Homo sapiens: one gene and its partner. The protein of the gene in region 1 interacts with the protein of each later gene in a biochemical or structural test. Each region holds a gene or a part of one and is shown in the gene's direction. Other genes may lie near its edges.

Region 1 (3,813 bases):
GTGGGTAGACTGAGTCAAGTACCAAAGGCAAAACCAAGATTTAGAATAGTGGGCAAGGGAGGAAAGTTACAGGGCGTGTGGGAACAGTGACAGTGACTCTTGTCTGTAGGCTTTGGAGATAAGGTGGTTGCTGGTAGGGAGCCCAGAAGGCAGTTAGAGCATTCTTTCTGCCCTTGAAGGGAAACAAACCCTTCCCGTTGTTTCTGGAGTCCCTGGGAAACGCTGTCAGTTTGGCCCTGGGCCACACATGCGAGCCATCTCTGCGTAACCTCTGCCAGTGTCCTCTGTCAGCACCTGTTTTAGCGGCATTCCTCACAGGCAAACAACAGCTGCTCCAAAGGGGGTGGTTGTTTTAAGAAAAATGAGCGCGCACAAATGTCTGTGCAGAAAAGAACATTCCCACCTGTTTAATATGGAAAGTCTCACTGTCTTAAAAGAAAACAGTGGCCGGGCGCAGTGGCTCACACCTGTAATCCCAGCACTTTGGGAGGCTGAGGTGGGCAGATCACGAGGTCAGGAGATCGAGACCATCCTGACCAACATGGTGAAACCCCGTCTCTACTAAAAATACAAAAATTAGCTAGGCATGGTGGCGCGTGCCTGTGTTCCCAGCTACCTGGAAGGCTGAGGCAGGAGAATCACTTGAACCTGGGAGGCGGAGCTTGCAGTGAGCCAAGATTGCGCCACTGCACTCCAGCCTGGCAACAGAGCAAGACTCCGTCTCAAAAAAAAAAAAAAAAATAGCCACGCATGGTGGCGGGTGCCTGTAATCTCAGCTACTTGAGAGGCGGAGGCAGGGAGAATTGCTTGAACTCAGGAGGCAGTGGTTGCAGTGAGCCGAGATAGCGCCATTGTACTCCAGCCTGGGCAACAAGAGTGAAACTCCATCTGAAAAAAAAAAAAAAGAAAAGAAAAGAAAAGAAAACAGTGGCTGGGCATGGTGTCTCACGCCTGTAATCCCAACGCTTTGGGAGGCTGAAGTGGGAGGATCACTTGAGCCCAGGAGTTCAAGACCAGCCCGGGCAAATAGGGAGACCACCCCACCCCCCATCTCTACAAAAATAATTAAAAAGATAAAAAATTAGCCGGGCATGGTGGCATTTGCCTGTAGTCCCAGCTACTCAGTGGGCTGAGGTGGGAGGATGGCTTGAGCCCAGGAGGTGAAGGCTACAGTGAGCTGTGATCAGACCACTACACTCCAGCCTGAGTGACAGAGCAAGACCCTGCCTCCAAAAAAAGAAAAGAACACAGGTGAATATGCCATCTATGAAACAGGCCATAGTAAGAAAGGACCCTGGCTACTAAAGGGGAAGATAGTGATTAAAGCCAAGGAAGGGCCAGGCATGATGACTCACACTGTAATCCCAGCACATTGGGAGGCTGAGGCAGAAGGCTCGCTGACCAGCCTGGGCAACATAGTGAGACCCCATCTCTACAGAAAATTTTAAAAATCAGCCAGATGTGGAGGCTGAGGTGGGAGGATTGCTTGAGCCCAGGAGTTGGAGGCTGCAGTGAGCTATGATTGTACCACTGCACTATAGCCTGGGCGACAGAGTGAGACCTTGTCTCAAATACATAAAAAAACATGGCTAGGCACAGTGGCTCATGTCTATAATCCCAGCACTTTGGGAGGCCGAGGCAAGCAAATCACGAGGTCCAGAGTTCGAGACCAGCCTAGCCAACATGGTGAAACCCCATCTCTACTAAAAATACAAAAATTAGCCAGTCATGGTGGTGCGTGCCTGTAATCCCAGCTACTTGGGAGACTGAGGCAGGAAAATCTCTTGAACCTGGGAGTCAGAGGTTGCAGTGAGCCGAGATTGTGCCACTGCACTCCAGCCTGGGTGACAGAGCAAGACTCCATCTCAAAAAACAAACAAACAAACAAACAAACAAACCACACCTAGTAAGCCCTCCTGATTCATTTATGTTAATGCTTGCCTAGAGCTGCCACATGCAGCTGTGCAGGGTGCGCACTGCACAAGGATGCCACATCTGAGGGGGCTCCATTAATAACAGAGACATTGTAAATGTATGTTAATTTCAGCAATTAATGACAGGTGGAAATAAAGCATCTGGCTCTAATAAAACAACATTTTTTTTCTGAAAAATGAAAGCAAATGGCCTGAATTTGCAGAATAAAAGCCACACAGGCTGTGGAGTGGCTGTGGGCCTGGCCTCATAGATATTTAGGTTTGGGCCCCTTTTTTTTTTTTTTTTTTTTTAATTTTTTGTAGAGACAAGCGTCTTGATATGTTGCTCAGGCAGGTCTTGAACTCCTGGCCTCAAGTGATCCTCCCACCTCAGCCTCCCAAAGTGCTGGGATTATAGGCGTGAGCCGCCATGCCCAGCCTGGCCCCTGCCTTTAAGCAGCCTTGACTGTCACCCTTTAAGTGGCACCATTGGGATGAACAGAAGAGTCTTCAGATAAACCCTGCCACTTGCTTCTCCTCCCTCCCTTCTCCACCTGTCCCCACCACCTCACTGCTCCTCGTGGCCCTCAACTCCCTACTGTGCCTTCTGGCCTACAAGGGGTGGCTCACTCCTCACCCCTCTTCCCTCCATCTCTCCCTCTAGAACATAGATACCCTGGAGCGAATAGCCGGGCTGGAACAGGAGGACTTGGTGGAGGCGCACGGCACCTTCTACACATCACACTGCGTCAGCGCCAGCTGCCGGCACGAATACCCGCTAAGCTGGATGAAAGGTGAGGCTGGAGGGCATCCTGAGGGCAGGCCTCCTCTCAGCACCAGGAGCAGTGTCTCCATGCAGTGGGCACCCATTCTGTCCTGCTCAATTCTTTGGGGTTTTTTTGTTTTGTTTGTTTGTTTTTGAGACAGAGTCTCACTCTGTCGCCCACGCGGGGAGTTCAGTGGGTGATCATGGCTCACTGCAGCCCAACTGCCTGATTTCCTGTCTTTGGCTGTTTTTAATATATGATAGTAGGCCAGGAGCAGTGGCTCACACCTGTAATCCTAGCACTTTGGGAGGCCAAGGCGGGCAGATCACCTGAGGTCAGGAGTTCAAGACCAGCCTGGCTAACATGGTGAAACCCCGTTTCTACTAGAAATACAAAAAAAAAAAAATTAGCCTGGTGTGGTGGCATGCGCCTGTAATCCCAGCTACTCAGGAGGCTGAGGCAGGAGAATCGCTTGAACCTGGGAGGCGGAGGCTGCAGTGAGCTGAGTTCGCACCATTGCACTCCAGCTTGGGCAACAAGAGCAAAACTCTGTCTCAAAAAAAAAAAAAAAAAAAAAACAAGAAGTCACTTATTCCACTCATGGAAAGCCATTTCTGACATTCTTTATGCTGATTTAACAAAGCCTCTGGTGTCCCTGTGAGATAAGGACAGCTGCAGCATTTGCAGAAGGGCCTCTGGAGTGTGGCTGTTCTGATAAAATGCCAGCTGAGTGCCCCTGGGCTGAGGATTCCTGAATAGCCCAACTGCAAGCAGCTGGGGGCAGTGTACAATTCACATTACCCCCATTATGTGTCATTGACAGCAGCGTCACAGGCAGCACCCACGGTGTCATGCTGTCCATGCAGAAATATTTTAAAGAAAATTACCGACTACTGACATTGAAACAATGCTTTATAAATGTGTGCTGAATGAATGAATGGACAGTTGAGCAAATGACTTAGAATTCAGTGGGTTGCAAGTGACAGAAATGCTTTCTTTCTTTCTTTTTTTTTTTTTTGAGATGGAGTCTTGCTCTGTCACCCAGGCTGGAGTGCAGTGGTGCAATCTCGGCTCACTGCAACCTCCGCCTCCCGGGTTCAAGCAATTCTCCCTGCCTCGGCCTCCCAAGTAGC
Region 2 (3,913 bases), on another chromosome or scaffold:
CAGTATCCAAGAAGTTTGACTTGGTGTGAAAGGGTGGGATTACATGTTAATGATAGCAGGGTTTAGATTCTACACTGAAAGGAAGCAGTTAGTGAGCCCTGGGAGGAGTTGAAGGAAAGCAGTTACAAAAATGGATGCTTCCCAAGACCCTCCATTAAGCCTCCTGGGATAGGTCCCCTGTCTGTCCCTAGACTCCAGGGTACTGCTGGGCACTTCAAGAGAGACAGAGAATTTGAATACTCATGAGTCTTGGAATGTAGGAATAACAATTCATCCGAACAAGCAAACATGATAGACAATTTTTTTTTTTACCCACTGAGGACATTGTGTCTAAAAATCTGATTTGTGCCCAGGAATTATCTGTATAGAATTTTCATTACTTTATAGAATTGATATTGCATAGTTCTGTAGGATAAGGATCTAGCACTTGAGTTATGAATAGCTCAGGATGACATAACACACAATGGTTAGTTGGACTGGATATGTCCATAAAGCTGAATTCTAATTCAACTATGAGCATCTCTGATTCTGCTTCTGATTCTAGGTGACTTTAATCCCAAATTGAATTTTCTGACATTTCTGTAAAATGGGGCATGAGAGAGCACGTCGGTTATGGGGTTTAAATATAAAAGAGTTAAGAGCTGAGAAGTGCCTCCTTGGTCAATTAAACCACACTGACATCCCGTTTTCCTTTTCTTCTTTTTCATAATTAGAGAGGAAGTGGAGGGAAAGGAAATAAATAACTTTAACAAAGTATGCCTAGTTTAAATGCACCAGGTCCCCGCTCTTTTATAAACTCATAATTCTCATTGCATCACTAATTTGAAATTAATCACAGCTCCTTGGTGTCTCAGAAAGCTTCCTATTGCTTTTCACTACGTAACTTTCCAAGTCTGTGTGTTTGGTACTCTAGGATGTTAGGCCACCAGAGGAAAGAGGATGTATCTTTTTTTTTTTTATACTTTAAGTTTTAGGGTACATGTGCACAATGCGCAGGTTAGTTACATATGTATACATGTGCCATGCTGGTGTGCTGCACCCATTAACTCGTCATTTAGCATTAGGTATATCTCCTAATGCTATCCCTCCCCCCCTCCCCCCACCCCACAACAGTCCCCAGAGTGTGATGTTCCCCTTCCTGTGTCCATGTGTTCTCATTGTTCAATTCCCACCTATGAGTGAGAATATGCGGTGTTTGGTTTTTTGTTCTTGCGATAGTTTACTGAGAATGATGATTTCCAATTTCATCCATGTCCCTACAAAGGACATGAACTCATCATTTTTTATGGCTGCATAGTATTCCATGGTGTATATGTGCCATATTTTCTTAATCCAGTCTATCATTGTTGGACATTTTCTTTTTGATAGTCGAATTCCCTTCAACGTCTAGCACAGTGCCTTGCACATTTACCCACTCAAAAAAAATTTCGTAAGGAATTAATAAATGAATCCTTAGGAGGAAAAGTGAAAATGAAGTTTTTCTCTCAGGATGAGGTGTATTTCTCCGTTCATTTCAGATATGCATCAGCTAGTCAGCGTAAATTGTGCTTTTTATATGCTCACCAGGTGTAGGTAAGAGCTTTGGCTGAGATGGAGAAATTCATCGCGGGAGGATAATAAAGCGGGCAGGGATTTGGCAACCTCAGAGCCGCGAGGAGGAGGCGGAGTCGCGGAGAGTTTGAGTATTTCCGTCCAATCAAAAGGAGACTGTAAGAGGAGGAGGAGGAGGAGATGACTGGGGAGCGGGAGCTGGAGAATACTGCCCAGTTACTCTAGCGCGCCAGGCCGAACCGCAGCTTCTTGGCTTAGGTACTTCTACTCACAGCGGCCGATTCCGAGGCCAACTCCAGCAATGGCTTTTGCAAATCTGCGGAAAGTGCTCATCAGTGACAGCCTGGACCCTTGCTGCCGGAAGATCTTGCAAGATGGAGGGCTGCAGGTGGTGGAAAAGCAGAACCTTAGCAAAGAGGAGCTGATAGCGGAGCTGCAGGTAAGGCGAGAGAGAGAAAATTGAGGTCTCTAGGGCAACCTCCATGGAAAAAGGCTGGCTGCGCCCAGGCCAGCGCGCCCCCCTCGCATGCACCCCGTATCAATTAGTTCCGGGGCCTCCTGAGATTGGGGGGTAGAGAAGAACGGGGGCGGGAGGAGGCAGAAAGAGGGAAGAACAAACGGCGGCGAGATGCAAACTTTTCTTTTAGTTTGCAACCGCGTCTTTCACGTTGGCATGCCTCCGCTAGCATTGCAAAGTGCGGGCTGCTCCAACTGGTCCTGCAGGCTGCTCGCGGATGCCAGCGCGGGATGCCAGCGCGGCGCCCCAGCGCCTTAGCGCGCAATTGTTCTGGCAGCCTCGCGCCGCCTCTCCCCCAACCCCCAACCGCCTCCGCGCGGGGCGATCGGGAGAGGGGCCCCAAAGTGGCTTCTTTGCGGGGAACCCAGGGACTGGCGATTCTTCCCAACCAAGTTCTGGGCCGCCCCGCCGATTCTAGCCTGCCTTGGCGGTGGCGGGGTTGGGGGGGTCGGGGGGCGGGGGGAAGCTGGCGGAGACCCAACCAGTCTGGTGGCTGCTGGGGCAGCTGGAGGGGAAGGCAGCCCTCGTAAGGCAGCAAACACGTACCCGCCCCTCGTCTGATGCAAGACTGCTCCGTGCTTTCGCCGCCCCTCTGCCTCCTGGGAGCCTTCGGAGGAAAGGGAGGCGGGCGGGGAGCGCTGGGGTCCAGATTTAGCCTCCTCCCCACCTTTGGTTTATCGCTGGTTGGGAGTGACCAGACTCGACTAGAATCCGATCCCAAACGCTCCCAGATGATTTATAGTCTTAGCAAATTTTTATCTCCTTTTGTTGTGATATATAATTAATCTACTTCAAATCTTTATCCACCGTGTTTGAAAAGGCCTGCTGGGCCTGGTGGCCTTGTCCGGAATATTTATTTTGTGAACTCTTCACTCCAGTGCCTGCACTTTCGACCTCTGTAGTCGACCCAGCTGCCCAGTCTCTACCTCACCTGATCCAGTATATTCTCCCCCACCCTCCAAATCGCACAACCGCCTTCTGCCCGCCTCAGCCCTGTCCACCACCTTCAGCCGTCTCCTCCTCCGAGGACCCCTTAGACCGCAGAGGCTGCTGTTGTTGCTTTAGTTGTGCCACAACCACGTGGTCCTGGAAACTGCCTCGCTCACTTTGTCTGCCTTTGTATCTGCTGGCGTGGATCTTGTCACCATGGCATGACACTATATCCAAGTATCCAGCTCTGCCCTGTACTCAGAAGAATTTGGTCCCTGCCTTCAAGAAGTTTGTAAGCTGGTTAGGGAGCATGGCTAATACGCAGGAGACAGTTGAGCAGATGACACAAGAGCATAGCCCCGAATTAGACCATCCAGCTCCCTAACCTTTGCGTGTTCCCCTTCTGGAAAAGCCAGAGAAAGGTCCAATCATCATGCACAGAATTGGTGGGCAAGGGCTTAGGACTTGAGTAGGATTGGACGGGTGGCAGGCTCCTCACATCTGTCACCTCCTTTCTTGTGTGAAATTGTATCAGTGGCTCTGGGGAACAACCAGGAAAGGCAGTGGGGTGTCCTGCAGAACAGCCTCTGACTCTCACCTCCACCAGAGCACCAGGTTGGGAAGAGGGTGGCAATCAAGTGCTTTCACCTCTCTAAAGGAAATTAGAAACCTGATACCCCAGTGAGGGGGTGGGGATAGGGAGGGATGAGGGCAGAATTGAGAGGAATGGGAGGCCTCATCCATAATGAGGGGTTGTTCCATGAAGTCAGGAATCAGCTGGGTGGATGCTGGGAGTCTGGTGCTGAAACTTGGAGAACATTTTAAAGGCGCTGAAAACTCTTGGCAGGAGAGGAGGAGTGTTTGTTGGCTAACTTGACTGCTGGGCATTTTTGGACTGTTTGGGAGGGCTCAGCT

Evidence for each region.
Region 2: of the proteins of SIRT2 (region 1) and PHGDH, one has a biochemical effect on the other in vitro, tested with the Homo sapiens proteins (one large-scale study listed by BioGRID).

Annotation. Positions count from the first base shown.
Region 1 is NC_000019.10:38,882,521-38,886,333, reverse strand, and holds part of SIRT2 (NAD-dependent protein deacetylase sirtuin-2), read left to right. Parts: intron 1-2,577; coding exon 2,578-2,707; intron 2,708-3,813. UniProt on the Homo sapiens protein: NAD-dependent protein deacetylase, which deacetylates internal lysines on histone and alpha-tubulin as well as many other proteins such as key transcription factors.
Region 2 is NC_000001.11:119,710,171-119,714,083, forward strand, and holds the start of PHGDH (D-3-phosphoglycerate dehydrogenase), read left to right. Parts: upstream 1-1,763; 5' UTR 1,764-1,852; coding exon 1,853-1,990; intron 1,991-2,560; exon of another isoform or gene 2,561-2,628; coding exon of another isoform or gene 2,629-2,688; intron 2,689-2,741; exon of another isoform or gene 2,742-3,290; intron 3,291-3,913. UniProt on the Homo sapiens protein: Catalyzes the reversible oxidation of 3-phospho-D-glycerate to 3-phosphonooxypyruvate, the first step of the phosphorylated L-serine biosynthesis pathway.